Regions from separate parts of the Homo sapiens genome. Here all the other regions are linked to region 2. Evidence: fine-mapped expression QTL. A gene starts in region 2. Each other region holds a variant in brackets. All regions are shown on one strand. Distances are from middle to middle.

Region 1 (9,925 bases), 17 kb before region 2:
AATAAAATGTGTTGGCTTTTTTTTTTTTTTTGAGACAGAGTCTAGCTCTGTTGCCCAGGCTGGAATGCAGTGGCACGATCTCAGCTCACTGCAACCTTTACCTCACCAGTTCAAGCCATTCTCATGCCTCAGCCTCCCGAGTACCTGGGATTACAGGTGTGTGCCACCACGCCCAGCTGATTTTTGTATTTTTAGAAGGGACAGAGTTTTGCCATATTGGGCAGCCTGGTCTTGAGCTCCTGACCTCAAGTGATCCACTCACCTCAGCCTCCCAAAGTGCTGGGATTACAGGCGTGAGCCACCACACCCGGTCTTTTTTTTTTTTTTGTAAGACAGGGTTTCATTCTGTGGCCCAGGCTGGAGTGCAGTGAAGCAATCTTGGCTCACTGCAACCTCCACTTCCTGGGTTCAAGTGATTCTCCTGGCTCAGCATCCCGAGTAGCTGGGATTACAGGTGTGTGACATCACACCTACCCAGCTAATTTTTGTATTTTTAGTAGAGATGGGGTTTTACCATGTTGGTCGGGCTGGTCTTAAACTCCTGACCTCAAGTGATCTTTCCTCCTCGGCCTCCCAAAGTGCCAGGATGACAGGCGTGAGCCACTGTGTCCAGCCATAATATGTTTGGCTTTGAGTACACTGTTTAAATAAAGCAACACCTAAGGGTGTCACTGGGAGGTCTATGAAATAGGCTGAAGTATTAAAAACCAAGCAAAAATAGTAAGAAAAGCTGAGAAAGAAACATGGAAAGGAAAAAAAAAGGAGTGAAAAAAGATTGGCAAAGTAGTGCCTCACCAAGAAAATGTCTTTCATGCTGTTTAGTGATATTCTCGGTTAAAAATTTCTAAAAGCTGTGGAAAGCAAGTCAAATTTTGTTCTAGCCTTCTGCTGTGAAAACATTAGGTAACAAATATGTGTCAAATCTATTGTTTTCCAAAATATGGTGTTCATGCTTGAAATACGCCATTGCCAAATAAAGTCTATTTTTGATATACATAAAAAAAGAAGAAACAGAAAACCCAAATAGTCCTATACATCAATTAAGGAATAGAAATTCATAGTAAAAACTTTCTCATGAAAAAATTTCCCAGCCCAGATGGCTTCACTGGTGAATTTTATTAGTTAAATTTATTTTAAAAGAAATATTAATTCTACAGAAACTCTTCCAGAACGTAGAAGGAGAGAGCAAAACTCCTAACTAATTCTATGAACTCAGAATTACCCTGATACTAAAGCATGACAAAGATACAAGAAAAGAAAGCTATAGGCCTATATCCCTAATGAATACAGATACAAAAATCTTTAACAAAACATTAGCAAATCAAATCTAGTAACGTACAGAAAGGATAATATATGAAGACCAAGTAGGGTTTATCTCAGGAATGCAAGGTTGGTCCAACATTCAAAAATAAATCAATGTAACTCAACATATCAATAGACATAAAAAGAAAAACTATATAGTCATCCTTTTTTTTTTTTTTTTTTTTTTTTGAGACAGAATCTCGCTCTGTCGCCCAGGCTGGAGTGCAGTGGCAAGAGAAAAACTATATGATCATCTTAATAGAGGCAGAAAAAACATTTGATAAAAATTTACTCATGATTTTTACAAAAGAAATTTTCAGCAAACTGGAAATAGAAGGGAAATTTCACAATCAGATAAATAACATCTACAATAAGACCTACAGCTAACGCTATACTTAATAATGAAAGATTGCTTTCCCACTAAGATTGGGAACAATGCAAAGATCTCTACTGTTGCCACTTTTATTCAACATTGTACTAGATGTCCTAGATAGTACAATACAACAAACAAGCAAATAAATAAATATGTAAATAAATGGCAGATTGGAAAGGATTAAGTGAAACTGTGTTTGTAGAGAACATGGTATCTACATAGAAAAGTATACTACAAAGCTAATAGAAATATGTGAATTTAGCAAGGTTGTAAGATATACAGCCAATATGCAAAAGTCTATTGTATTTCTACTTAACAGTAATTTTAAAATTTAACATTGAAATTAAAAATCGGCTGGGCACGGTGGCTCACGCCTGTAATCCAGCACTTTCGGAGGCTGAGGTGGTGAATTACGAGGTCAGGAGATCAAGACCATCCGGCTGAAACCGGATGTTGAAAACCCGTCTCTATTAAAAATATTTAAAAAAATTAGCCAGGTGTGGTGGCAGGCACCTGTAGTCCCAGCTACTTGGGAGGCTGAGGCAGGAGAATGGCATGAACCCGGGAAGTGGAGCTTGCAGTGAGCCAAGATTGAGCCACTGCATTCCAGCCTGGGGGCCAGAGCAAGACTGTGTCTCAAAAAAAAAAAAAAAAAGAAGAAGAAATTAAAAACCAATACCACTTACAATAGCATTAAAAACATGAAAAGTTAAGGGACAAATATCATGAAATAGGATTTGTACATTGAAAATGGAAAATCATTACCAAGAGAAATAAAAAAAATCTAAATAAAAGGAGAGATATACAATGTTCATGATGAGAAGACTCACTACTTTAACAAAATATTAACAATTCTGAAGAATTATGTTAGTACTTTCCTAATTGATATTGCAATTTCAATCAAAATCCTGGCAGGCTTTTTTTTTTTTTTTTTTTTGGTAGATATTGACAAGCTGTTTCTAAATTATATATGGAAGTGCAAAGGACCTAGAATAGCCAAAACAATTCTGAAAAAGAAGGAAGAAGTTGGAGAACTCACATTACTTTATTTCAAGACTTACTATAAAGCTACTATACGCAAGACAGCATGGTGATAGCGTAAGCTTAGACCTATGGATCAGTGGAACAGAAATGATTCCAGAAATAGACCAATATCCATTTGGTCAGTTGATTTTTGACAAAGGAACCAAGGTAATTTCAATGGAGAAAGAATAGTCTTCTCAACAAATGGTGAAGAAACAATTAGACATCCATATCCAAAAAAAAGAACCTCAACCCTTACCTCCCACACCATGAAGAACTTCAAATGGATCATAGACTTAAATAGAATATAAACCTTC[A/T]AAGAGATAATAAAGGAAAATATCTTTGTGATCTTGATAAAGATTATTTAAACAGGATGCAAATAACATAAACCATAAAAGTCAAAAATTGAAAAATTAGCCTTCAAAATTAAAAACTTTTCCTTTATGAAAGTCACTGTTGGGAAAATAAAAAGACAAACCAAAGACTGGGAGAAAATGTCTGATAAGTAACTGGTCTCCACAATTTTAAAATAACTCATAACTCAATCGTTAGAAGACAAACTAACCAACAATAAAATAGTCAAGTACTTTGAAGAGGCACTTCTTCAAAGACATATGGACGGCAAATAAGTGCATTAAAAAAATTCAACATCATTATTCATTAGGTAAATGCAAAATAAAGCCACAATGACCAAGTGCTACACACTTATAGAATGGCTAACATTTTTAATACTAACAATACAAAGTGCTGGTGAGGATGTAGAGCAGCTAGAATATATATTGCTGTCAGGGATGCAAAACTGTACAACCATACTGGGAAATAGTTTGACAGGTTTTTTATTTCGTTAATAGATGAACCTTGAAAACATTACGCTAAGTGGAAGAAGCCAGTCACAAAAGATATATTATCTGATTCCATTTTCTGAAATTTCCAGAATGGGTAAATCCAGAGAGATAGACAGTTGATTAGTGGTTGCTTGATGCTCGGTGGGGGAAGGGATGATTTCTCTTTTGGTGACGAAAACATCTTAAAATTGACTGTGGCGATGGTTGCACATATCTGTGACTATACAACAAACAAACACTGAATTGTACTTTTTAAATGGATGAAGTGGATTGTGCGCTAATTATATCTCAATAAAGCTGTTTTTTTTAAATAAAAATATTGAGCTAGGTGAATCTTCACATTTCTCCCGCTCTCCATTTCCTATCTCCATAGTTTTTCTTTTTTCCAACAAGTATTTCTTGGCTGCTCCCAAGCTATTCATGTTTCCAGTTCTCTCTCTTCCTTTTCCCCCCTCAAATGTTCCTGCATCAGCCCATAACCTGAATGGCCAAAGAAAGGATTCTCCTGGGGAGTGGTGGGTGCAAAAGAAGCTACAAGGCAAACACAGAATTCTCGTTCTCCATGGGGCAGGCCTTGGGCCCCAGGACCAGGATTAGGTAAGGCGAGTGAGGTATCCAGGACCCAAAATAAAAAGAGGTACTCACCCAGGGCATGTAAGTGAAGGTCGGCTCCTGAGAATGGATGCATCCTTACATCTTTTTTTTTTTTTTTTTGTAGTAAAACACACATAACAGAAAATTTACCAGTTCAATCATTTTTTTTGTTTTGTTGTTGTTTTTGTTTTTTGTTGTTGATGTTGTTGTTGTTGCTGTTGTTGTTTGAGACGGGTCTCGCTCTGTCGCCAGGCTGGAGTGCAATGGCGCGATCTCAGCTCACTGCAACCTCCGCCTCCAGGGTTCAAGCGATCCTCCTGCCTCAGCCTCCCGAGTAACTGGGACTCGAGTGCTCCATCATGCCCAGCTAATTTTTTGTATTTTGGATAGAGATGGGGTTTCACCATGTTGACCAGGATGATCTCAATCTCTTGACCTTGTGATCTCCCACCTTGGTCTCCCAAAGTGCTCGGATTACAGGCGTGAGCCACCGCGCTGGGCTGGTTCAATCATTTTAAAGTGTACAATCAGTGGTTTTCAGTACATTCGCAATGCGTGGAACCAGCACAACATTGTCTAATTAAAAGATATTTTCTTTTTTTCTTTTCTTTTCTTCTTGGTTTTTGTTTTGTTTTGTTTTGAGACAAGTTCTCACTCTGTCACTCAGGCTGGAGTATAGTGGTGCAATCGCGGCTCACTGCAGCCTCAACCTCCCAGGCACAGGTAATCCTCCCACCTCAGCTTCCTGAATAGCTGAAACCACAGGTGTGTGCCACCACACCCTGCTAATGTTTAAATTATCTGTAGAGACGGAGCCTCACTATGTTGCCCAGGCTGCTCTCAATCTCCTGGGCTCAACTGATGTGTCTGCCTTGGCCTCTTAAAGTGCTGGGATTACAGGCATGAGCCACTGCACCCAGCCCCAAGACATTTTCATTACCCTAAAAGAAAACCCTTTAGTCACAAGTGTGGTTCCAGGTGTGAGCTGGCTTTGTGATCTGTAGAGCTGAGGGTAGAAGCTTCCATTTGAAACGTCTGCTCAGGTGGCTGCTGGAATGTGGCTGGACTTCAGGTAGACTATACCTTAGTTGGCCCTACAGAGGCATCTAAGAAGTTGTCCAGAATTTGAAGTTCTATAAAAGGAGACCCATTTACAATACACGCAAGGGAGCTGACTATTGAAAAGAAGCCAGCAGTGAATCCTTTGGTGTGCCTTTGTGTTGAATAAATTGGAATTTTTATAGATTGGGTTTGCAGCTCAACCAAGTTCTGAAAAGTGTGAGTCCAAACCGCATAGAGGTGAAGGTGGCAGGACTCAAGTTTCTATGGTTTTAAGGGTACAGGGACTTTCTCCTGCGCAATAATCTCATCTAAGAGAAGCCCAGGGCCTCCCACGTGGGCTTGTAGAGGGCAGGCTCCAGACTACAGAGAAAAGGGGAAACTGTGTTTTCCCCGCCCACAGAGACTGAAGGTCAGACCAGATCACGTTAAAGCAAGAAGACTTGGTATTCTTCCCTGGGGAATTTGTAGGTTACCAAGATTGGCAGGGAAGGGGAGGAGGACCAGAGATGTTCTAGAGTGTCACTCGATCCCCATGTATGGAGGGAACATTAACCCTGTGTCACGCACTTGGCACTTGGTACTTATTATTCCATTTAATTTCCCCAGCAATCCCTTCACTCACAGGCAAAGCCTGCAATTACCAACAAGGTAAAGTGGCTGACCAAGGCCACAGGCAAGTCAAGCCCTGGGGCTAGGATTGGAACCCAAATCTCATGGCTCAAGTCTTGAGGCTGACTCCACCAAGCCACTGTGAAGTCCCCCTGAGAGCAACCAAGAGCCAGGCATGTGGGGGGTAACAGGGCTAGAGAGGATGTTCTCAGTGGGCAGTGCTAATGTGACCCTGTGGGAGGGACATTCCTGTCTTCTCTTTTTGGTTTGTCTTGGAAAGTCCCACATCTTTTGCAGAACTGCTTCCTGGTATCCCTATCTGGAATTTACACCAAGGACAGCCAAAGGCCAAGACTGGCTTAGAGGCCTGAGGAGTGGGGATCAGAGAAAAGGGTCAGTCCATCCTGTGCAGCCTTCCCGGCCTGGGCCCCTGTGAGTTGATGGAGGAAATCAGTGGCCATCGTTCCCCTATCCTTATCCTGAGCAGGGGTACTGGAGGCCCTGGGAAAGCCCCCTGAGCTAAGACTGATCTTCCTTGCCCAAAAATAGCTGCCTGGGATTCAAAGAGACTGCATGGGAAGAGGAGGAACTTCAGATTCACACCTGGGTTCAAATCCTGGTTCCATCCCTTACTTGCTGTGTGACCTTGGCCAATGTCCCTCACTTCTCTGCACCTTGGTTTCTCCATCTGTAAAGTGGGATCAACCATCATCCTATGGAAGGGGCCAGTCCACAGGAAACACCTCTCATCAGGGAGTGGGAGCTGTTAGGAGGTTTCTCAGCATTCCTCTAGCTTCTAGAAGCCCCCTTCCAAGGAGTAAAACCTGTGCCTAAAGTGCTAGTGCTCTGGCCTAGGCACTGGCTTGGCCCTGGGGAGCTACCATGATGGACCAGTTATGGTCCCTGCCCTTCCGGAGCACAAAGTCTAGGGAGGAGGACAGAGCCTAAGCAGGCAGAGCCACACGTGGGATAGGGCTGCAGCAAAGGGACACACAGGGGCCCCAAAAGGGAAGGAGGATCCTGCCTGGGGTCAGGGAAGACTCCACAGGGACAGAGACTGGGGGCGAGAGTTTAAATCTTTAATAACCTGTTTGTCACAGTCACTGACCAATCAGAAAGGACACTGGCTGTAAACAATCCACAGCACCCACCAGTGTCTACCAGCTGATGATGAATGCCCTGGGAAGGGGCATTGATTGGGGTGCTGGCGGATGAATAAGAGTTCTTTCGACAAGTGGGAAGAAAGGGCACCCCAGGCAAAGGGAGCACTACGTGCTCAATCCTGGTGACAGGAAAAACCACGGCTGGAGCATAAGATGTGTTGGGGGAAGGTGGGGCATGAGAGCAGAGAGGGTCTCGAATGCCACTACATTTGGGAGACACGGTTAGGACTTCTCTGATGTGGCACTCCACACTGGTGACCCAGTTGAACAGGCACTGCAGTGAGAGTTTTCAGGGTCTGGACACGCCTCCTCTCCCAGGTCCACGACATCTACATGGGGCAGAGCTCTTACTAGGGGTCCAGGCTCAGGCTCCATTCTCTTGGGAGAGGGGCTGGCAAGGTGGGTCAGGAAGAGAGGCTCAGCCAAGGGGCTCTAGAGAGCCTTTTGAGTGGGGAAACTGAGGCCAATGCTCAGATGTATGAGTGGGATCAAATCAGTGGGAGGTGGAGACACTGGTGACCTGAGCTTCCCTGAGCTTCCCTGGCTTTGAGTCCTCCCCCTAGAGTGGCACTGAGGCCTCCTGTTAGCTCAGGAAAAACTCAGGGATGTTTTAAGGGTCAAGTTCTAGCACCAGCTCTGCTGCTGATGAGCTGTGACCTTGAGCAAGGCACAGACCCCTCTGGGCATGGGGACCCTGTTGATTGCTTCCTTGGAAATGGAAGATGTCCCAGGCTGATCCTGTTCTGCCAGCCTCCCTGACCTGGCATCATGGAGAATGTGAGGGCTTCAGATTCAGGCAGAGCTGAGTTTGAATCTCTGCTTTGGAAATGGACTGGGTGTTTGACTTGGACCAAGTGCTAAGCTCTGGGCCTTTATTTCCCCATCTACAAAACAAGGAATTGATTGGTGAGATTAGCGTTGAATGGAATAAATGAAAAACTCTGGTGGGGGGGGGCAGCTGGGCACAGTGACTCGCGCCTGTAATCCCAGCACTTTGGGAGGCCGAGGTGGGTGGATCACCTGAGGTCAGGAGTCCAAGACCAGCGTGGGCAACACGGCGAAACCCCGTCTCTACTAAAAATACAAAAATTAGCTGGGCATGGTGGTGCATGTCTGTAATCTCAGCTACTCAGGAGGCTGAACCAGGAGAATCACTTGAACCCAGGAGGCGGAGGCTGCAGTGAGCCGAGATCGTGCCATTGCACTTCAGCCTGTGTGACAAGAGTGAAACGCCTCTCGAAAATAAAAAATAAAAAAAAATAAAAAAGAAAGAAAAGAAAAAGAAAAAACTCTGGGGACTGGAGACAAAATAGTAAAAGGAGGTGGTAGAGAGCCTTGCTTCCGCCCTCACCTCCTATGAGGTGCCCTCTGCTTGCAGAATCTCTCAGCAGCCGGACTTTTGCAGAAGCTGCAGGTCAGTGGTGAGTGAGGAGGAAGGCTGTATCATTGATTGTTCTCCCAGGACACTTTGAGCATGAAAGGGGGCACCGTTAGTAATAAACAGCCATAAACCTGGGCTGTCCTAAGGAAACCAGAGTTTATGATGCCCCTGGTGATGAGTGGAGATTCAGAAATTGAAATGGAGAGGCGGAAGCGGGACACGATTGAGGAGGGATGTGAGCAGGTGCCAGGAGGCGCAATCTTTGGAGAGAGGGTGTGGTGCCCAAGCAGGCTTTGGGAGGCTTTTCTGCGGGAGGTACCGATTCGCTCCCCTCTTCTGGGTCCCAGGTGAACTTCAGGAAAGAGCAGCTTTGCTTTGCAGCAGTTTGGGAGCTGGATTGGGGCTGGATACGTTTTGTAACCTTATGCCTCTGCACGCTGGTTGGCTGCTTCACTTTTTTCTTGGTTATAACTTCCTGCAGAGACTGGTCTTCGGCTGGGAGCAGGAAGGCACTCTTAGAGTTGGGTTAGGAAAGTAAAGGCGCTTTTCCGATGCCTAGAAGGCAGTAGCTGCTTAGTAAACGTTCATCCCCTGCCATCTTAACCAGCAAGCGCCTTTGCTCTGGGACCCTGGTCCACGGTTGCTTCAAGCCCCCAGAGGAACCGCTGCCTTCATACTCCTCCAGATGGTCTAAGCCCTCCTGCCTCCCACCCCTCCCACACACGAATGCAGGAAGTCCTCTGAGAGCCTGCTGGATCAGTTTCCTTTCCGCTTCCTTTCTCTTCCTCTCCGGTGAGGGCTGGGACGCAGCTGGCGGAGTTGGGGGGGGTTCTCCCCCAGACTGCTTCTCTGCACAGCCTCCTTAACGCGTCACTCACAGGGCCTGCATTCCTCCAACTTTAATGCCTCCTCTGGGAACACAGGCTTCCAGAAACCTGAGATGACCAACCAGCCGGTGCAGGCCAGAGGGAGAAGGGCCCAGACGGTGAGGGGGAGAGTGAGGGGCTTGACTTCTGCCTTTGCTGAAAAGAGAAACCGCAGGCCTCCCCCTCCCCTTTCAGCTTATGGGACTTCTAGACCAGGGAGCAAAAAGCACTGGCTCTTGCCAAACCCACTTAGGGAGATGGAAAAGGAAAGATGGCACGATAGTTTGTAAAGGTGGAAGATCTTTTGTCACATACACCAGGTACAAAGGTTTTCATACTGGGACCCTTTACTGTCCCTTTAGGCTTCTAGAACAATAGGGCAGACTACTAGCAGAACCAAAAACAGAGAGGTGAACTAGGATTAAGTAATGGCTCCCAACAACTGCCTTGCAACTCCCAAATATTTAATAAGCAGCTCTTATTTAATAATCAGCTCCTGCCAGCCAATGTACCCCAGCTCTAGCATACCACTGGTCCTATCTATCCCCCTCTCAGGCCCTGATCACCTGAGGTAGGGAGTTTGAGACCAGCCTGGCCAACATGGTGAAACCCTGTCTCTACTAAAAATACAAAATTAGCTGGGAGTGATGGCGGGCGTCTGTAATCCCAGCTACTCAGGAGGCTGAGGCAGGAGAATCCCTTGAACC
Region 2 (9,925 bases):
AGGCATCACCCAGGACCATCCTGCAGGCACAGGTGATTCTTTGTTGGGAGAGAGTTCCAGTTTTCCCAGAAGGATTCATTCGCTCTTGTCATCCAGGTGCGATTATTGACAGCAACCCCTTTCCCTCTGCAAGTGTCTTGCTTTGGATGATCAACTTTAGGGTCACCTTGGGTGTCTGCAAAGGCCACTGCGTTGGGGGATTCATTTTTTACATTATACAAAATGGGGGTGTCTTGTCTGCTGGGCTCTTTGCCACATACTGATGTCTGGGTGTCCCGCCAAGAACTTCCAGGAGAGTTTAAGCAGTTAAGTCACATTTTTAGGAGCAGCAAACCCTGCTGGCTGCAGAAGGAGTTGGGACCCTCTCCACCTCCTCCCCAGCCCTGCCACCACTCCCTGTGTGACCCCGGGCCACTTCCTGCCTAGCACAATGTGGGGATGGGTCTCCAAGAGTCCTGTCAACCTTGACCTTCTAAGATTTCCTGTTACCCGATGACCCTGGGGAATTTCAGTAAAAATTGGGATGCAAGAAACATCACACCATCATATGGCTCACTGGTCACACCATGAATCCTAGGTCTTTCCTGTGCCAGGCTCTGGGCAGCTGCTGGAAGCCAAGGCATATCCATCAACACTCCTGCTTCATGGGAGGAGAGAGACGAAGCCAGCAACAGATCGGCCTATTCAACTCAGCATCAGGAGAGAACAGGTGCCAGAAAGCAAGCGGGGATAGAGTCCCAGTGTACTGTGAGCTTGCAAAACACCTTCAAAGGCCAAAATCACATTCCCCCAATACCCCATTGCCATGTCTGTTGCCTCTCAGCAGCCAGAAACTCCTACTCTCTTCCTGAGGAGCACAATGATTTTGACAGTTTCTTTGGGCGACTGACATCGCACCAACTCCTTTGTGATTTTAGTATTCGTGGTCTCTGAGTCTGTATCCTCATCTGTACAATGGGCAACAATCTCTACCTCAAAGTGCAGTTGAGAGTATCAGGTAAGGGAACAGACAGGAAATGCAGTTCATATGCAGTTCATGGTGCTCCCTGCAGGCCGTAGGATTTGAGTCTGCTAGTTGAAACAGCAGATATTAGAGCGGGTGGTAGAGGGAAGTTCAGGGAGGTGCGGGGAGGTGGGAAATCAGAGAGTACATTTCTGCCTCTTGATGGCTGTGTGGCCTTGAGCAAGTCCCATCTGTAAAGTGAGGGTGGGAATGATAATCCTTGATAACTTCTTTTTTTTCCACATTCCAGAAACCACCTGGGGAGTGGGGTCTCCAACCGTGTCGGGCGAGGACTCAGAGTTGGCAGCAGTCACTGCCAAAGGCAGGAGGAGATAACCAGTTAGCAGGCCTGTCACAAGATCAGCAACGCATGAAAGACAAAATGCTTCCCTGCGGCAGGAAGAGCCGACGCTTCCCTGCGGCAGGAAGAGCCGATGACACACTGCACTTAAAGTATTCCTCCAAGCCCCACCTCATTCTTCCCAGATCCTCTAGCCTTGGAGCACAGCCTCCAACTCTTCACTGAGCATTTTCAGGAGTACAATCTCAGGCGACTACCCCAATCCTGCAAGAGAGGCTGCCTGCCCCCCTTTGACAGATGAGGAAACTGAGGCCCACAGTGGGGAAATGGATGGCAGGAACTTGAACTGCAGAGAAGAGGCAGACTGAGTTTTCAAGTCTCAAAAGAACCTATGTCTGGACTCTTAAAACAACTCTACAGATGCCTGGAGCAGAGAGTTTTAAAAATTAGCTCCAAAGCTAACCTCATATACAGGCATGGGGACCCGTGGAGAGAGTACTCTTCTCTTCCTCTCCAATGTTCCTGTCCCCAACCAGACCATAAAATCTTGAGGGCAGGGGCCATGGCTGAAACTTCTGTTCTCTCCCACAATACTTAGAACAGTACACAGAGTGTTTGCTCTATGCGGATTAAACAGAGCAGATGCTTGCTGTATGTGGAATTTTTGTGTGTGTGTGTGAGACAGACTCTCACTCTGTCGCCCAGGCTGGAGTGCAATGGTGCAGTCTCGGGCTCACTGCAACCTCTGCCTCCTGGGTTCAAGCGATTCTTCTGTCTCAGCCTCCCGAGTAGCTGCGATTACAGCTGCCCGCCACCACCCCCAGCTAATTTTTGTATTTTTAGTAGAGACAAGGTTTCACTATGTTGGCCAGGCTGGTCTTGAACTCCTGACCTCAGGTGATCCACCCACCCTGGCCTCTCAACGTGCTGGGATTACAGGCGTGAGCCACCTCGCCCAGCCTCTATGTGAATTAAATGCAAATCGTTTGGAATACTATGCAGTCATATAAAAGGAAGCAGTTTTTCTGGAGCCAACAGGAAATGGTCTCCAAGAAGTGAAGAAAACATAAGATACACAATAGTGTAGATTGTATGCTATTATATGAGCAAAAAATAAGAAGAAATACATATACATTCACATACACACGACCATATATACGTGCATACATATATACACACCCACACAAAACACACTGTCTAGGACAGCATATATTCGGCAACGTTGGCTCCCTCCAGGGATAAGAACCAGGTGGCTGGGAGGTAGGGGTAGAAAGGACACTTTTCACTTTGTCCCCTTCTGTGCCTTTTGAATTTTGAACTGTGGGCAAGTATTATCTATTCAAGCAACAAATTAAACATTTTTTAAGTTAAATAACAAAAAATGAGCCAGCTACTTTATAAAGTGAGCCATATGATGATGTGATGACTCCTACATCCCTATCCTGACCGAAATTCCCCCGGGTCATCAAGTAACAGGAAATCTTAGAAGGTCAAGGTTGACAGGACTCTTGGAGACCCATCCCCACATTGTGCTAGGCAGGAAGTGGCCCGGGGTCACACAGGGAGTGGTGGCAGGGCTGGGGAGGAGGTGGAGAGGGTCCCAACTCCTTCTGCAGCCAGCAGGGTTTGCTGCTCCTAAAAATGTGACTTAACTGCTTAAACTCTCCTGGAAGTTCTTGGTGGGACACCCAGACATCAGTATGTGGCGAAGAGCCCAGCAGACAAGACACCCCCATTTTGTATAATGTAAAAAATGAATCCCCCAACGCAGTGGCCTTTGCAGACACCCAAGGTGACCCTAAAGTTGATCATCCAAAGCAAGACACTTGCAGAGGGAAAGGGGTTGCTGTCAATAATCGCACCCGGATGACAAGAGCGAATGAATCCTTCTGGGAAAATTGGAACTCACCCCCTACAAAAAATCCCATTACCGGGAAGATGGCAAGAAGATATTTTGTAACAAAGGAACTTCAAAGGAACATGGCCTGATTCTAAGTTCTTCTTGCCTCTCCTCTCTCCCCCATTACCCCCTCCCCCAATACTAACAACAATAAAGGACTTGAGTTAACCTGGATTCAAATCCTGGCTATTTTCTGAGCCTCAGTTTCTTCATCTATAAAACATAAATCATGACCCCTATCTCAAGGGATGCTATAAGAATTAACTGTCTCTTACAGAGCCAGATGCAGAGAAGGTGCCCGGCAAGCGGTAGTTTCTCTTCCCTTCGTGCAGAGAAATAATGAAACAACACATACTGAATCCTGAAACTCTTTGGGGGTGAACGGAGACAGACTTTCTCCCAGACCAGTTGAACAACGCCTCGGTGGGCAGAAGTGTGAGGCAACGTGTGCAGGGAGACGCTCATCCTAATTCTGGGTGTCATTTTGCAAAGCACTGCTTCACGATGACTCATTTTGGGACTCCCTAAAAACTCCTTTGAGTTAAAAACAAAAGTTGAGTGGGATTCAGCTTGCATTGTACCTTATCACTCTACTGTGCCCTCGTCAGTGTATCAGAGTACTGCAGGGAATTCAAGAATCTCTGAGCAGGCTAACCCTGATATTTGCCCCATAGTGTCACCAGGAGCTGGGACCATCTGCACAGGGCCCAGGACAGAGGGAAAGAAGTGGCCATGAGGGATGGAGGAGGAGGAAGGCCAGGAAAATGGGGTGCATGGGCCTCCCCTACCCTGCTCCCATCCAAGGGGGAGGGGGACCCCCAATGCAAAAGCACTCCTGGGTCCTCCTACCTATCCCTGCTTTATTTCTCCATCAAACTTTTTTTTTTTTTTTTTGAAACAGAGTCTTGCTCTGTTGTCCAGGCTGGAATGCAGTGACATGATCTCAGTTCGCTGCAACCTCAGCCTCCTGGGGTCAAGCAATTCTCCAGCCTCAGCCTCCCGAGCAGCTGGGATTATAGGCACGTGCCACCATGCCCAGCTAATTTTTTTATTTTTAGTAGAGATGGGGTTTCGCCATGTTGGCCAGGCTGGTCTTAAAGTCCTGACCTCAGGTGATCCACCACCTCGGCCTCCCAAAGTGCTGGGATTACAGGGTGAGCCACTGCGCCTGGTCTCCACCAAACTTCTTATCTTTGAAATGCCAGACATTCACAGTGTCTTCCTCCCATCCCACTCTCCCACCTTGGCTGAAGCCCCAAGAGAGTCAGAGCTAGATTTTTGTTCACTCCTGTATCCCAGGACAAGGCTTCTTTATTCCCCTAACACTCAGCCTGCCTGCAGCCAGACCTACCTCTGTTGATTATCATTGGCTGTGTGACCTGGGACAGATTGCTTGACCTCTCTGAGCCTCGGTTTCCTAACTGGAAAATGAGGACATCACAAGTATCTGTCATACGGGTTCTGTGAAGCTGGGGAAGGGCTTTGCAAGCAGTAAAGTCTTACATAGATATTGTGTGTTGGGGGTGGGGGCAGTCCTTTCCTCCCAGTGGCCTGGTGCGGCTCTCAAAGTTTCCTTCAAAAGGGAGTTTCTGGTTCTTGCTCTGTAGCTTAACTGAATAGCTGCCAGAACATGGGACCTGCCCTCCACACAGTGGGCCCCTACTGACTTCTCCCACTCCCTCATTCAGGCCTCTGCTCAGATGTCACCTCATCAGAAAGGCCTTCTTCCAGCACCCCCTATAAAAAAGCACCCCTGGGTCCTCCTACCCTTCCGAGTTATTTCTCCACCAAACTTCTTTTTTTTTTTTTTTTGGAGACAGAGTCTCGCTCTGTCACTGAGGCTGGAGTGTAGTGGCGCGATCTCGGCTCACTGCAAACTTCGCCTCCCGGGTTCACGCCATTCTCCTGCCTCAGCCTCCCAAGTAGCTGGGACTACAGGCGCCTGCCACCATGCCCGGCTATTTTTTTGTATTTTTAGTAGAGACAGGGTTTCACCGTGTTATCCAGGATGGTCTCGATCTCCTGACCTTGTGATCCGCCTGCGTCGGCCTCCCAAAGTGCTGGGATTACAGGCGTGAGCCACCGCGCCCGGCCCAAACTTCTTATCCTTGAAATGGCAGATATTCAGTGTCTTCCTCCCACCCCATCCCTCCCCCTTGACTGAAGCCCCAAGAAAGGGCCATATTTTGTTCACTCCTTTATCCCAGTGCCTAGAAAAGTACCTGGCCCATGGAAGGTGCTCATAGATGTGTCGGGTGAACCAATGACTGAACTAATGTTTGCTGCATGAATATGGCCAGTATCACAAATCCTCTAGTAACACTGCAATACGCTGTCTCAGAACTTCGATTTCTTTCTATTATTTGTTGCAGTGTTTATTTCTTCTATTTAACTTTTCAATCTGTCTGACATTTATTGTGGTGTATATCATGGGAGGCAAGGCTGTAAACAGATCTCCAGCTAAACGGCTAAACAATTTGCAGAACAATCCATTTCCTCCCCATTGGTTTGTGATGTCTGCATTTTCATCCACAAGAGCTGGGACCAGGCCCGCTCCTGTGGGCCAGCTGCTGCCTCGTCTGCCCTCTTGTTCCAGAAGCCCAGGGCTATGCTGTTCCTGAGGCAGGGCTGCCTAGTGATTGGCCACACAGGCACTGGAATTAGACAATCTGCCGTGCACTTTCCAGCTCAACCACTTACCATCTGGGTGACTTTGAACAAAAGAATTTGCTTTTTATTGTTGTTGTCCAGGTTGGAGTGCAGTGGTGCGATCATAGCTCACTGCAGCTGCTAACTCCTATGCTCAAGAGACCCTCCCGCCTCAGCGTCCCGAGTAGCTGGGACTGCAGGCAGGCACTACCACACCCAGCTAATTCTTACATTTTTCTGTAGACATGGGGTTTTGCTATATTGCCCAGGCTGGCCTCAAACTCCCAGCCTCAAGGCATCCTCCCACCTCAGCCTCCCATAGTACTGGGATTACAGGTGTGAGCCACCGCACCCAGCCTGAAATTTCATTTCTAAGCCTCAAAGCCCATCTGTAAAATGGGCACAAGGGTAACGTTGGCACACGTGGTGGACGCTCCGTTGGTGTCATTATTACAGATCACGGCCAGTTGAAGCACTTCCACTCATTTGGCAAACAGAAGCCAGACGGGCATTCACCCTGTGCCCAGTACAGTGCTGCGCCCAAGCAGGCAGTCAGTGTCCCTGGCTCCAGCCCTCCTGGGGTGCAGCACAGTTTTGAATGTGGAGGGGAGGCAGCAGGGGTGGAAACAGCCCAGCCAGGAGCGGCCGCTCTCGGTGCGGGGAGGAGGTGAAGTGAGAACTGAGCTGCTTGGGTCTCAGGGAGGCTCTGACTTCTAGAGGGGGCGTTCAACATTCTTTAGTGGGGACTTTTACTACTTCCAGAAACCTCTGCACATTGGCTCTTGCTGGTCCCCCGGGGGCCACAGGAAGTGGGAGCTCCAGATGAAGAGTCGCTGGCACTTTGAGGGCAGGGGGCAGGGCCTTCCCCTCATCGGAATACTCTTGGAGCCTACTTCAGTGCCTGCATTCAGCTGGTGCACAATAAGTGCTTGTTACTGTGCCAATTTCAGTATGACTAGGGCTGTGGTAGGAGCAATGCTAGGCGATGGGGAATCCGAAGACGCACAGGAGTCCAAGGGTTGGCTGACTGCAGACCCTCATCATAAGTCTAGAGCCGGAGAAGATGGGGAGACGCCGGCCTGCGCCCTGTGAGTCTGGGCCTCAGTCTTCCCATCTCTGAAATGGGGAAGGGGTTCCTCGGCCGAGCGGATCGGCCGCAGAACTCGGCGGAGTCGAGGGGTCCAGGCCCAGGAAGGACGCCGCCGGGGCGCCCCCCGCCCCTCAAGCTTGCGTGGCGGCAGCGCGCACGAGCGCTGGGGGCGGCGCGGCCCCGCGGCGGGGAGGGGCGGGCGCGCGGGCGCGCGGGCCCGCGCAGGCGGTGGCGGCGGCGGCGGAACCGAGCTGACGGGCGTGCGGCCGCTGCGCCGCAAACTCGTGTGGGACGCACCGCTCCAGCCGCCCGCGGGCCAGCGCACCGGTCCCCCAGCGGCAGCCGAGCCCGCCCGCGCGCCGGTGAGTCGCCTGGGGCTGGGGCCGGGCCGGTGGGGCCCCGCGGCCCGGAGAAGGGCGGGGGCCGGGCGGCGGGGCCGTCACCCCCAGCCGGGCCGAGGGCGGGCGCGCGCCCACGGCTCCGCGGGGGAGAGCGGGAGGCGGGCGCGAGTGTGGCCGCGCGGGGCTGAGCGTGTCGGCGGCCGGGCGGGCGGGGGCGGCGTGTCCGCGTGTCCCGGGGTGTGCGCGTCCCCGGCGGGTGTGCGTGTGCACCCCGGAGCGTCTGGTGGCGTTGTTGGGGTGAGTGCGTGCGGGGACGCGGGCATGGCTCCCCGCTACCCACTTCCCGAGTGGGGACGACGGGCGGAGGAGTGTGCCGGGCGCCGCAGGGAGTACGTGCGGGTCTCAGGGAGTGTGTGTGTGCACGTGTGTGCATTCCAAAGTGATTTGTGTGCAAGCACATGCGTGAGCCTAGAAGGGCGAAAGTATGCCTGTGTGGGTGTGAGTATAACGAGTGTGCAGGGCCGTGCGAGCGTGTTTATTACTGAGGTTGAGGGGCCGGCCCCCTTTGCGCCCACCAGGCCTTTGCACAGTGATGGCCCCCGAGCCAGGGAGCCCGTGGAGAGAGAAGCGGCCTGGCATGGGCTGGGGGTCGGGGCTGGGCCTGATCCGGTGAACCAGGGGCCAGGAGGGCAGACTCAGAGCCTGGCTGGGCCTGACAGAGGCAAAGGTCTTAGAGCCAGGCTGCGGCAGGGCCACTGGCAGGACCCTCTCTGCATACACAGGCTGGGCGAGCGGAGGCTGTGGTGGGCCCCTCGGCCGGGCACCCGAGGACGTGTGTTTTCCTAAATATCCTCCAGGCTCTCCTGTCTTTGTTCTTGTCTCTCTCCAGCCAGGCCTGGGGGGCTGACCCTAGACTTGCCTGTGTATGTGGGGGCCTCTCTGCCTGCCCTGCTAAGTAGACGGATCTTTTGATTTATTTATACCTCTCCTAGGCTCCAAGTGTGAATCCCAGGACAGTAACAAATTGATCACAGCGGGCTTGGGACACCAGCTTCCGAGGTCTGTCCTTGCAGTTTTGACTGACAGGCTTTTGTGTGTGTGCGTGCTCTCTAACTGTTGAAAATCTTTGCAGCTGAAAGTCTTAATTGCTTTAAGGCAAACTTTAGAAATTCCAGAGCTCCCTAGTTGGTCTGACTTTTCCAAATTCAGCTTGCCTTTTTTGGGGGAAAATGTCGCCTTAGTTTGGTGTACAGTACGTGCAGGCAGGTCTTGGAGGCACGTTTAAAAACCCTGTCGTTAATGGAAGAAGAATTTCATTGAAAGGGACGCAGAGCCGTCTGGAAGCGCCTGCCCCGGACTCAGCGAGTTTGGACTCAGCGAGTTTGAGCTTACCGAATGAACTTTGGACGTCTTCTTTTAGCAAACAAAACCTGGAAGGAAGCAAAAAAGACCCACATTCTTTTTCTTTTTTCTCCTGAAAATGAAAAAAAGAAAACACCTTCTGGGTTTGCTGGAAATGCCCCCTCTCCTTCCCCCATCAAGGCCAAGCCCTCGCTGCGTCCCCCACCCCCAAATAAAATATGCCTGTGGGGAGCCGTGGAATGAGTCACTCCCTGGCAGAGAGCCTGACGGGCAAACATTTGGGAAGGTTCTTGCCTAACTTCCCAGAAGAAAAGGCCCAGGATTTAAAATGGTCCCTGTGGTTTGTCAGCCTCTGCTGTCCCGTCTGCTTCGGAAATGACTAAAAAGTAGTTTGTATCTCCACAAAATAAAGTCTCAGACTGAAGGCCTTAGACCCAGGTTGGTCTGGATTTAGAGCTGTTTGGGTTTCCAGAAATGGAGCGCCTGGCTTTAACTGGTGGCATTTCTGGTGGGTTTGAACAAGGGCAGAGGAGGGAAATGGGGAGGAAGTTCCCTTTTGCGGAGCAGAAGGGGCTGTGTGCTGGGAGCCGTTCTAGGGGGTGTGAATCTCCCGTTGGTCTTCTGTGACAGAAAATGCTTTTGGTTTTGTGCACAAGGAAACTGAGGCACACGGGGGTCAAGCCTGTGTCCTGGGGCAGCTGAGAGGAGGTGGGGGCAGAATCCGAAGTCACCTGCCCAGCCTCACAGCCTTTCCTCTTTCCATTGCACTTGGGATATGGTATTTGACTGGCTAAGGTGCACAGACCTAGTGCTGAGTACTTTAGCACACATCCGTTCATTTTCTGCTCATCGTAGATAGGGTTTATTATCCCCATTTCACAAATGATAAAACTGAGGTTCAGAGACATGACTTGCATAATTTCATTAAAGTAGCACCACGATAGATGGTCCCCATTTATTTTTATTTATTTATTTATTTATTTTTGAGACAGAGTCTCACTCTGTTGCCCAGGCTGGAGTACAGTGGCGCAATCTCAGCTCCCTGCACCCTCTGCCTCCTGGGTTCAAGTGAGCCTCCTGCCTCAGCCTCCTCCTGAGTAGCTGGGATTATAGGCAGGTGCCACCACGCCCAGATAATTTTTGTATTTTTAGTAGAGATGGGGTTTCACTGTGTTGGCCAGCCAGGCTGGTCTCGAACTCCTGACCTCAGGTGATCCGCCCGCCTTGGCCTCCCAAAGTGCTGGAATTACAGGCATGAGCCACCATGCCCGGCCATGTC
Region 3 (9,925 bases), 28 kb before region 2:
CATGCAGACACAGACACACACACACATACACACACACACACTCTGACAGTTCCCCAATGGCCAGCCTCCTCCACTGACTCCCCACAGCCAGGTGCTCTGACACCCTCCTTGGTGGGACCCTCTCTCTTCAAGGCGCCCAGAGCCACCTGGCTGTCCTTGGAACTAAGTGAGCACCCTGCCCACCCCCAGCCTTGTCCCCTAAACTGGGTGGTTTAGGTCTGAGGGGTGGGGAGAAGGCTGCCCAGAGTCCAAAGTTCAGGGGCCAACATCTTGTTTGCAGGCGCTGGTGGAAATTGCACAACCTGCCAGCTGGGTGACTTGGGCTTATTGTCTCTGAGTTCCCCTTGGCTGCAGGCCCAAGCCCAGCCAGTGACCTGTTTCTCTGGAAGAGGGTGGGGAAAGTGGTTCCTCCCTCCCCTGCCTGGGGAACTGGTGGCCCTCCCTGGGCACTGGTGGCTGGTCCCCAGCTATGTGTGCAACACACCTGACACTGAGATGCACAGAACTCAGCATCCAACCTGTCCTTTCCCAGATAGGAAACTGAAGCTCAGGGAAGGAAAGGCTTGCCCAGGGTCACCCAGCAAGGAGGCCCAGGAGGACTGGAACTCAGGCTCAGTTTCCTTTCTTTTCTTTTCTTTTTTTTTGTGATGGAGTCTCACTCTGTGGCCCAGGCTCGAGTGCAGTGGCGTGATCTTAGCTCACTGCAACCTCTACCTCCTGGGTTCAAGCGATTCTCCTGCCTCAGCTTCCTGAGTAGCTGGGATTATAGGCACGTGCCACCACACCCAGCTAATTTTTTCATATTTTTAGTAGAGGCAGGGTTTCACCATGTTAGCCGGTCTGGTCTCAAACTCCTGACCTCAGGTGATCTGCCCGCCTCGGCCCCTCAAAGTGCTGGGATTACAGGTGTGAGCTACCGCGCCCAGCTCAGTTTTCTTTCAAACCCTTTATCAAAAGAAATATAATCCAAAGCCAGACAGTACTAATGCAAATGAGCAGAGCTACCGTGGGTGCAAAAGGAAGGGACCCCAGAGCCCGTGAGTAGAGACCACTTTCCCTTTCCACACCTACCGTGGCTAAGTCAGTTAGTCAAAGGGTCACTGTGCCATATCACCAGATCATTGAGCTTAACAAATCTATCCCGACTTAAAACATTTTATTTATTTATTTATTTTTGAGACAGGGCCTTGCTCTTGTCACCCAGGCTGGAATGCAGTGGTGCAATCTCAACTCACTGCAGCCTCAACTTCCCGGACTCCACCCATCCTCCTGCCTCAGTCTCCCAGGTAGCCGGGACCACAGGCATGCACCACCACACCCGGCTAATTTTTGTATGTTTTGTAGAGATGGGGTTTCGCCATGTTGCCCAGGCTGGTCTCAAACCCCTGGTCTCAAGCGATCTGCTCACCTTGGCCTCCTGAAGTGCTAGGACTACAGGCATGAGCCACCCCAGTGAGCTTTTTTTCATTTTGTTTTAATTTGTAAAAGTTCCCACTGTGTGCATGAAATGAATTAGCAAGGCCATCATGGCTACGGGGGGTCAGGATCTGGGGCCTTCAGATCCCTCTCACCTCTGGGACCTGCAGCCCAGACTGGGCTTAGATCTCTATTCTGTTCCCCTCCAGTGGCAGCATCAGGGACATGGGGTAGAGACAAACTGAACATTCCTGAAAATCCAAGAAATCTTCTAAAGCTTTAAAAACCCATCCCATGCCTGCCTGTCTTTTCCCTCTCCCCTTCGCTGCCTTTCTGTATCTCTCCCTTCTTTCCTTTCTTCCTCCTGCCTGCCTACCTTTCTCAGTGCATCCAGTCAAAATCATGAGGCTCGAGGATGACAGTCACAGTGGCCCTTGTGAGGCTGGACCTGGGCGGCAGCCTGCTGCAATCAAAGATGGGTATGCACCGGGGCAGAGCAGAGGTATAGCTTAGCATGGACAAGAGGATTCAGGTTTCTCCTTGATGAGGCAGGGAGGCACAGATGCAGAAAGGAGGAAACCAGCTGGGTGCGGTGGCTCACGCGAGTAATCTCAGCACTTTGGGAGGCGGAGGCAGGCGGACCACCTGAGGTCAGGAGTTCAAGACCAGCCTGGCCAACATGGTGAAACACCGTCTCTACTAAAAAATACAAAAATTAGCCAGACATGGTGGTGTGCACCTGTAGTCCCAGCTACACAGGAGGCTGAGGAAGAAGAATTGCTTGAACCCGGGAGGCAGAGGTTGCAGTGAGCCGAGATTGTGACACTGTACTCCAGCCTAGGCAACAAGAGTGAGACTCTGTCTCAAAAAAAACAAAACAACAACAACAAAAAAAAAGCCAGGTGCAATGGCTCACACCTGTAATCCAAGCACTTTGGGAAGCCGAGGCGGGCGGATCACTTGACGTCAGGAGTTCAAGACCAGCCTGTCCAGCGTGGTGAAACCTGATCTCTACTAAAAAATACAAAAATTAGCCATGCGTGGTGGCGTGTGCCTATAATCCCAGATACTCAGGAGGCTGAGGCAGGAGAATCACTTGAACCCAGGAGGCAGAGGTTACAGTAAGTCGAGATCACACCACTGCACTCCAGCCTGGGTGACAGAGTAAGAATCCGTCTCAGAAAAAAAAAAAAAGGAGGAAACTGAAGAAGCCCATAGTGTTGGGCTGGAGTTGGAGCTCTCAGTGAGAACACATGGTGAGAATCTGTGTTTATGTGGAGAGAGAGAGAATATAGACAGAAAGGTGTGTCTATATATATACATGTATATGCACCTGCATGCATATGTGTATACATATATGCATATTTGATGTGTGTGTGTGTGTGTGTATTTTCAGCTCTGTTCACCAAGAAGGTATGGGAGCAGCAATGCTCTGGTAGCAATGAACATACCCAGTGCCAAGATCTTGTTTTCAAAATGCCATTTGGAGGAAGGCTGAGTCCTGGCTGGGAGAGAGGAAGAACAAGATGAACCTGGAACACCTTGTTGTGGCAAAAAGTCACTAAGCATTCAAAGCATAGTGTGGACATGTCAAAGGGACACAGGGGCCAGCTGGATGGGGCCACACCAAATCTGGTGTAATTGAAAAATCAAAATTAATAATGATAGCAATGAATGATAACCCACTGAATAAAATAGAAACCCCTGACTCCAACTGCTATAAACAAAAAAACGAATAAGTAACCGGACAGAAGAGAAAGCTTTTCCTGACAGTAGAATGTCAAATCATACAGAAAGAAGGAAAACCACCTTTGTCAAATATGATCATAATTATTATTTCAGGTAAGAAACATCGATGGAACCAGGTTAAAACTAGGGATGTAAATGGAGTGAAGAACAGGATATTAGCTTAGCACTGGAGCCCGGGAGTTCCAGTTCAGCCTGGGCAATATAGCTTGAGCCTATCTCTAAATAAATAAATAGACAGAAAATGAACAATTCTAGGAAAAACAGAAAGCTGCACAAGAGAATAAATGCAATCACAGTACTCTACATTGCTGGGCTATCAACACTGTTCACATGGCCACAAAATAAACCCCCAATATTTATCTAACCAAAAATTATGAGATGAGATGATCATATAAGGAAGATGGTACCAGGGGAAGTAGGGGCAGCGTGGTATGGGAAGCAAATTCTAATCTTCCAAAGTAAGAAGAGAGTAGATTATACATAAAACTGAAAGTCCAGAAATAACGGTATAGACATGTGATAACAGTGGAAGCATAAAGGCAAATAAAAAAGAAACTTGTTTCTTGTTAAAAAGCAGTTACCTCTGATGGTTGGGAACTGGGAGCAAAGATGGATTAGACAGGAGACAGCTGTTTTTCATTGTTAAGTCTTGCAGAACAAAATGCATGTAAAATTTTTTGAAAGTGAAATCAAAATATAAAAATATAATTAAAAGAAATACATGTTTAGGCCAGGCACAGTGGCTCATGCCTGTAATCCCAGCACTTTGGGGGGCCGAGGTGGGTGGATCACTTGCGGTCAGGAGTTCGAGACCAGCCTGGCCAACACGGTGAAACCCCATATCTACCAAAAATACAAAAATTAGCCGTGCGTGGGGGCACACTCCTATAGTCCCAGCTACTCAGGAGGCTGAGGCAGGAGAATCACTTGAGCCCAGGAGGCAGACGTTGCAGTGAGCCGAGATCATGCCACTGCACCCCAGCCGGTGGGGCAGAACAAGACTCAGTCTCAAAAAAAAAAAGAGAAATACATTTTGAGATAAGCAGTAAATTTGGATAATTGGTTGAGTTGACCATTTAACAAAATCTTCAAAGGATCCTTCAGATGCTAAAGTTCTGATAAGACAGAAAATTACTTTTTTTCAGAGGTTTTTAAAAACAATCAGTCTAAAAGCTAAAGTTCCCATGTGATACTGTGAAAAACATATTCATAGGATATTATTTAAGAAGAATAGACTGGGTACAGTGGCTCATGCCTATAATCCCAGCACTTTGGGAGCCTGAGGTGGGCGGATCCCGAGGTCAAGAGATTGAGACTATCCTGGCTAACATGGTAAAACCCTGTCTCTACTAAAAATACAAAAATTAGCTGGATGTGGTGGCACATGCCCGTAGTTCCAGCTACTCAGGAAGCTAAGGCAGGAGAATCACTTGAACCCAGGAGGCAGAGGTTGCAGTGAGCTGAGATCGTGCCACTGCACTCCAGTCTGGTGACAGAGCGAGACTCCATCTAAAAGAAGAAGGAGGAGGAGGAGGAGGAGGAGGAGAAGGAGAAGGAGAAGAAGAAGAAGAAGAAGAAGAAGAAGAAGAAGAAGAAGAAGAAGAAGAGGAGGAGGAGCACTAGAAGAGCAAATGTATTATGAACTTTGGACAAATTAAATAGTCCTTAAAATGGAATATAGCCATTGGAAGAATGTACATTAAACATAATTTTAAAATTTTTCTTTTTTTTTTTTTTGAGACACAGTTTCACTCTTGTCACCCAGGCTGGAGTGCAATGGCGCAGTCTCGGCTCACTGCAACCTCCGCCTCCCGGGTTCAAGTGATTCTCCTGCCTCAGCCTCCTGAGTAGCTGGGATTAGAGGTGTGTGCCACCACACCCATAGAGATGGGGTTTTGTTCGCCATGTTGGCCAAGCTGATCTCGAACTCCTGACCTCAGGTGAATCACCCTCCTCGGCCTCCCAAAGTGCTGGGATTACAGGAGTGAGCCACCATGCCAGCCAAAAAGAATATTTCTTAAACAAGTTTTTGAAAAACCAGTCAATTCGGTAATATGAGGCAGTGGTCCTTCAATGAGTTTTGGAGAACTGCCTTTTGTCCAATCGGCCTTTGAAGGTGTGGCAGCTTCCCCTACACCTGAAAGAGGTCCCACCCCAGGACACAGGCCCTGGCCTTGGGCATGGCAGGCCAGTCTCCCCCAGACCCACCCACTGACAGCCTCCCAGCAGGAGGGAACTCACACTCCTCACAACAGCACTTTGTGGTGTAAATACAAAACCCCATTTTACAGATGAGAAAATGGAGGCTTGAAGAAGTGAATTGACTTGCCCAGCGCCTCATAGTCAAAAAGTAATCAAACTGGACTTGGCACACAGGTTGACAAACCCCAAGGCCAGGATTCTCTCCTTGCTCCCCCAACCCTTGGATCTCCCACCTGCTGGCGCCAGACCTAATTAGGAGCTCTGCTGGCCCCTGAGGTGGGTTGGGAGGTGGGTGTGTCATTAGATTGTGAGATTCTGGAAGCTCCCGCCATGTGTCATTATGTCTAATTACATGAGTTCAGGCTTCTGCGTGGGCTGGTGGAGCCAGAGTGTCTCCGTGCCCAGGTGGCCAGGGAATTTCTGCAGCCAAGAAGTGGATGAGAGGCCGCTGAAGGACCCCGGTAACATGTTCCCCAAATCTCCTGGAGAAAGCCGAGTTCCAGGCCCCTCCCGGAGGCTGAAGGGTGGCCCCGATGGGGAGTTGGGGTCTCTCCATGCTTCTCGGGGTGCACTTAACCAGACTCCTACCTGGGCAGGGAATAGAGTAGAAGGAAATGGCTGCATGAGGGGCACAGCCCCTAGTCCCCTCATCCCAGCCCCAGACGGACAGACTCACACATGCATATGCACACACAAAACACAGAAACATGGTGTTGGAACAAATATCTGGACTTTTTTTTTTGGTAGATGAATCTGCTCTGTCATCCAGGCTGGAGTGCAATGGCATGATCTTGGCTCACTGCAACCTCTGCCCCCTGCTGGGTTCAAGCGATTCTCCTGCCTCAGCCTCCCAAGTAGCTGGGATTAAAGGGGCCCACCACCACACCCAACTAATTTTTGTATTTTTAGTAGAGACGAGGTTTCACCATGTTGGCCAGGCTGGTCTAACTTCTGACCTCAGGTGATCCACCCACCTCGGCCTCCCAAAGTGCTGGATTACAGGCATGAGCCACCATGCCTAGCCAAATATCTGGACCTTTGAGTAAAGAGCTGCTTACACTTTCATCAGTTCCACTGGGTGTTCACTCTGGGGGAAAGGCAAGTGAGAAGGAACATGGAATAGGGACAGAACGTGGTCACTGTCCTCCCTAGGCAGACATGGGTGAGGGAGGCGATCTTTTGCACGTGCTCATTTAATAAGCAGGTATTGGCCGGTCATGGTGGCTCATGCGTGTAATCCCAGCACTTTGGGAGGCCGAGGTGGGTGGATCACAAGGTCAGGCATTCAAGACAAGCCTGGCCAAGATGGTGAAACCCCAACTCTACTAAAAATATAAAAATTAGCCACGCGTGGTGGCGGGCGCCTGTAATCCCAGCTACTCAGAAGGCTGAGGCAGAGAATTGCTTGAACCTGGGAGGTGGAGGTTGCAGTGAGCCTAGATTGGGCCACTGCACTCCAGCCTGGACAGAGCGAGACTCCATCTCAAAAAAAAAGAAAAAAAAAAAAAAAAGCAGGTGTTGAGTGACTTCTGTGTGCCAGGCATTGTTCTAGGCATTGGGGTTATAAAATAAAGTCCCTCTTCTCAAGGGGAGAGAGACAATAACCATACACTAAATATGTAATGTACCAGATGGTGACAAGCAGAGTGAGGGTGAGGGGCCACTGCTCATAGATGATTATCTGGCTGGAGAAACAGTCAAACCTTTCCCCACTGACTTCCCAAACCCAGAGGATAGATGGAGAAACGACTTGGGGAATAGAAAAAAGGACCCACCTCCCCAGGTGCCTTCTCCTCCTTCTTCTCTTCTCCCTCTCCTCTAATGTTGTTTTTCCTTTAAACGTTACTTAAAACAGACCAGGCTCAGTGGCTCACGTCTGTAATCCCAGCACTTTGGTAGGCCGAGGTAAGAGGATCACTTAAGGCCAAGAGTTTGAGACCAGCCTGGCCAACATTGCAAAACCCTATCTTTATGAAAAATACAAAAATTAGCCAGGCATGGTGGTGTGCACCTGTAATCCCAGCTATTTGGGAGGCTAAGG[C/A]ACCATAATCGCTTGATCCTGGGAGGCGGAGGTTGCAGTGAGTGGTGATCAGGTCATGGCACTCCAGCCTGGGTGACAGAGAGAGATTCTGTCTTCAAAAAATATACAAATAAATTTTTTTAAACAGTTACTTAAAACATACGGGAGGTGTAGAAAATTATATGACAAATACTCATGTACCCGCTACCCCTGTTAAAAAATGAAACTTTAGGCTCGTAAAAAAATAAAAACTGGCTGGGCGCGGTGGCTCATACCACGGCACTTTGGGAGGCCGAGGTGGGCAAATCAAGAGGTCAGGAGTTCGAGACCAGCCTGACCAACATGGCAAAATCCCGTCTCTACTAAAAAGGCAAAAATTAGCTGGGTGTGGTGGCATGTGCCTGTAATCCTAGCTACTCAAGAGGCTGAGGCAGGAGAATTGCTTGAACCAGGAGGCAGAGGTTGCAGTGAGCCAAGATCACGCCACTGCACTCCAGCGTGGGCAACAGAGCGAGACTCTGTCTCAAAAAACAAACAAACAAACAAACAAACAAAAAACTTACAAATATAATCAAAGGTCCCCATGTTAGCCAGGAAAGGCTAGGTTATGCTGTAGTAACAAACAAACCCCAAATTTCAGTTGCTTTAAACAACAAAGGTCTGCTTCTATCGCATTCTCGATCCAGTGAGGGTTGACTACATTGGGCTATGTTCATTGTAGTCTCTTAGGAACCCAGTCTGAGGGATGCTCCACTATTTATGATGCTGTGATCTCAGCAAAAGGCTTCAAGATTCACCAGGTAAGGAAGGGAGCAAGAAGACTCAGGTGCTGGCTCTTAGATGTTTCCATTTGGAAGCGGCATGTGTCAGTTCTCCTCACATTTCATTGGCTAAAGCAAGTCATGTGTCCATGTCCAGCTTCGAAGGGGAAGTGAAGTATAATCCTCTCATGTGCTCAGAAGAGAACTGACATGGTGGTGAGCATTGTTAATATCTACCGCTTTTCTTATCCCATTTCCATCTACCCTTCACTCCCAGCAATAAGACCCATCTAGAAGTTGTTATGCATCCTTTTCACCTGTGGATTTTAAAAAACTTTTAGTATGCCTGTATACATCAACAAAGAATATATAGAAAGAAAGCCAGGTGCGGTGGCTCATGCCTGTAATCCCAGCACTTTGGGAGGCCGAGGCAGGCAGATCGCTTAATGTCAGGAGTTCGAGATCAGCCTGGCCCACCTGGTGAAACCCTGTCTCTACAAAAAATACAAAAATTAGCCAGGTGTGATGGCACATGCCTGTAATCCCAGCTACTGGGGAGGCTGAGGCACAAGAATTGCTTGAACCCAGGAAGCGGAGGTTGCAGTGAGCCAAGATCGTGCCAATGCATTCCAGCCTGATTGACAGATCAAGACTCAGTCTCAAAAAAAAAAAAGTATATATATATATATATATATATATATATATATATATATATATATATAGAAAGAAATCACAAAGAAAACTAGAAAATATTTTGAGCTGAATAACAATGAAAATGTAACATATCTAAGCCTATGTGATACAGATAAAGCAATACAATAAAGGGAAAGTTATAACATTAAATGGCTTTATTCAAAAGGAAGAAAGTCCCAAAATAAATACATTTGCTAAGCTTCCACCTTTAGGAACTAGATAAAGAAGAGCAAATTAAACCCAAAGCAGGTAGAAAGAAAGAAATAATAAGATAAGAGTAGAAATCAATGACTAGAAAACAGAAAAACAAGAGAGAAAATAAATGAAACCACAAGCTGCCTCTTTGAAAACATCAACAACATTGATAAACTTCATCTTCAATCAGTAGAAAAGAGAAAGTCACGGGCCAGGTGCAGTGGCTCATGCCTGTAATCCCAGCACTTTGGGAGGCCGAGGTGGGAGGATCACGAGGGGAGGAGATGGAGACCATCCTGTCTAATGTAGTGAAACCCCGTCTCTACTAAAAATACAAAAAATTAGCCAGATGTGGTGGCGTGTGCCTGAAGTCCCAGCTACTCGGGAGGCTGAGGCAGGAGAATTGCTTGAACCCAGGAGGTGGAGTTTGCAGTGAGCCGAGACAGTGCCACTGCACTCCAGCCTGGGCGACAGAGCAAGACTCCATCTCAAAGAAAAAAAAAAAGACACAAATTACCAACAAGAAAAATGAAAGCCTGGGTGCAGTGGCTCTGCCTGTAATCCTGACACTTTGGGAGGCTGAGGCAGGAGGATTGCTTAAAGCCAGGAATTCAAAACCAGCCTGGGCAACACAGCGAGACCCTGTCTCTACAAAAAGTAAAAAAATTCGCTGGGTGTGGTGGCTCATGTTTGTAGTCTTAGCTACTTGGGAGGCTGAGGTGGGAGAATCCCTTGAGTCTAGGAGGTCAAGGCTGCAGTGAGCTATGATAGCGCCATTACACTCCAGCCTGGGTGACAGAGCAAGACCTTGTCTCAAAAAAAAAAAAAAAAAAAAAAAAAAAGAAAGAAAGAGAGGGCATCCCTACACATCCTGTGACCATTAAAAAGA

The links.
Region 1: its variant is fine-mapped to the expression of NEK6 in whole blood (TOPMed, PIP above 0.99).
Region 3: its variant is fine-mapped to the expression of NEK6 in nasal epithelium (TOPMed, PIP above 0.99).

The regions. Positions count from the first base shown.
Region 1 is chr9:124,233,859-124,243,783 of GRCh38, forward strand. No RefSeq gene overlaps it. Among named protein-coding and RNA genes, the nearest start is that of NEK6, 19 kb to the right of the region's middle. RefSeq lists enhancers at 5,866-5,915, 6,046-6,095, 8,661-9,177, 9,178-9,694. The variant A/T (reference allele first, on the strand shown) is at 3,016.
Region 2 is chr9:124,250,781-124,260,705 of GRCh38, forward strand. NEK6 (NIMA related kinase 6) reads left to right here and starts at 7,169. Exons shown (of 10, transcript NM_014397.6): 1 at 7,169-7,305. It overlaps LOC613206 (a long non-coding RNA gene), which reads right to left. Exons shown (of 2, transcript NR_149024.1): 2 at 8,430-8,714. RefSeq lists silencers at 1,410-1,704, 7,189-7,318, 7,379-7,748 and enhancers at 3,441-3,820, 3,831-3,920, 3,951-4,040, 7,786-8,731.
Region 3 is chr9:124,223,234-124,233,158 of GRCh38, forward strand. No RefSeq gene overlaps it. Among named protein-coding and RNA genes, the nearest start is that of NEK6, 30 kb to the right of the region's middle. The variant C/A (reference allele first, on the strand shown) is at 7,409.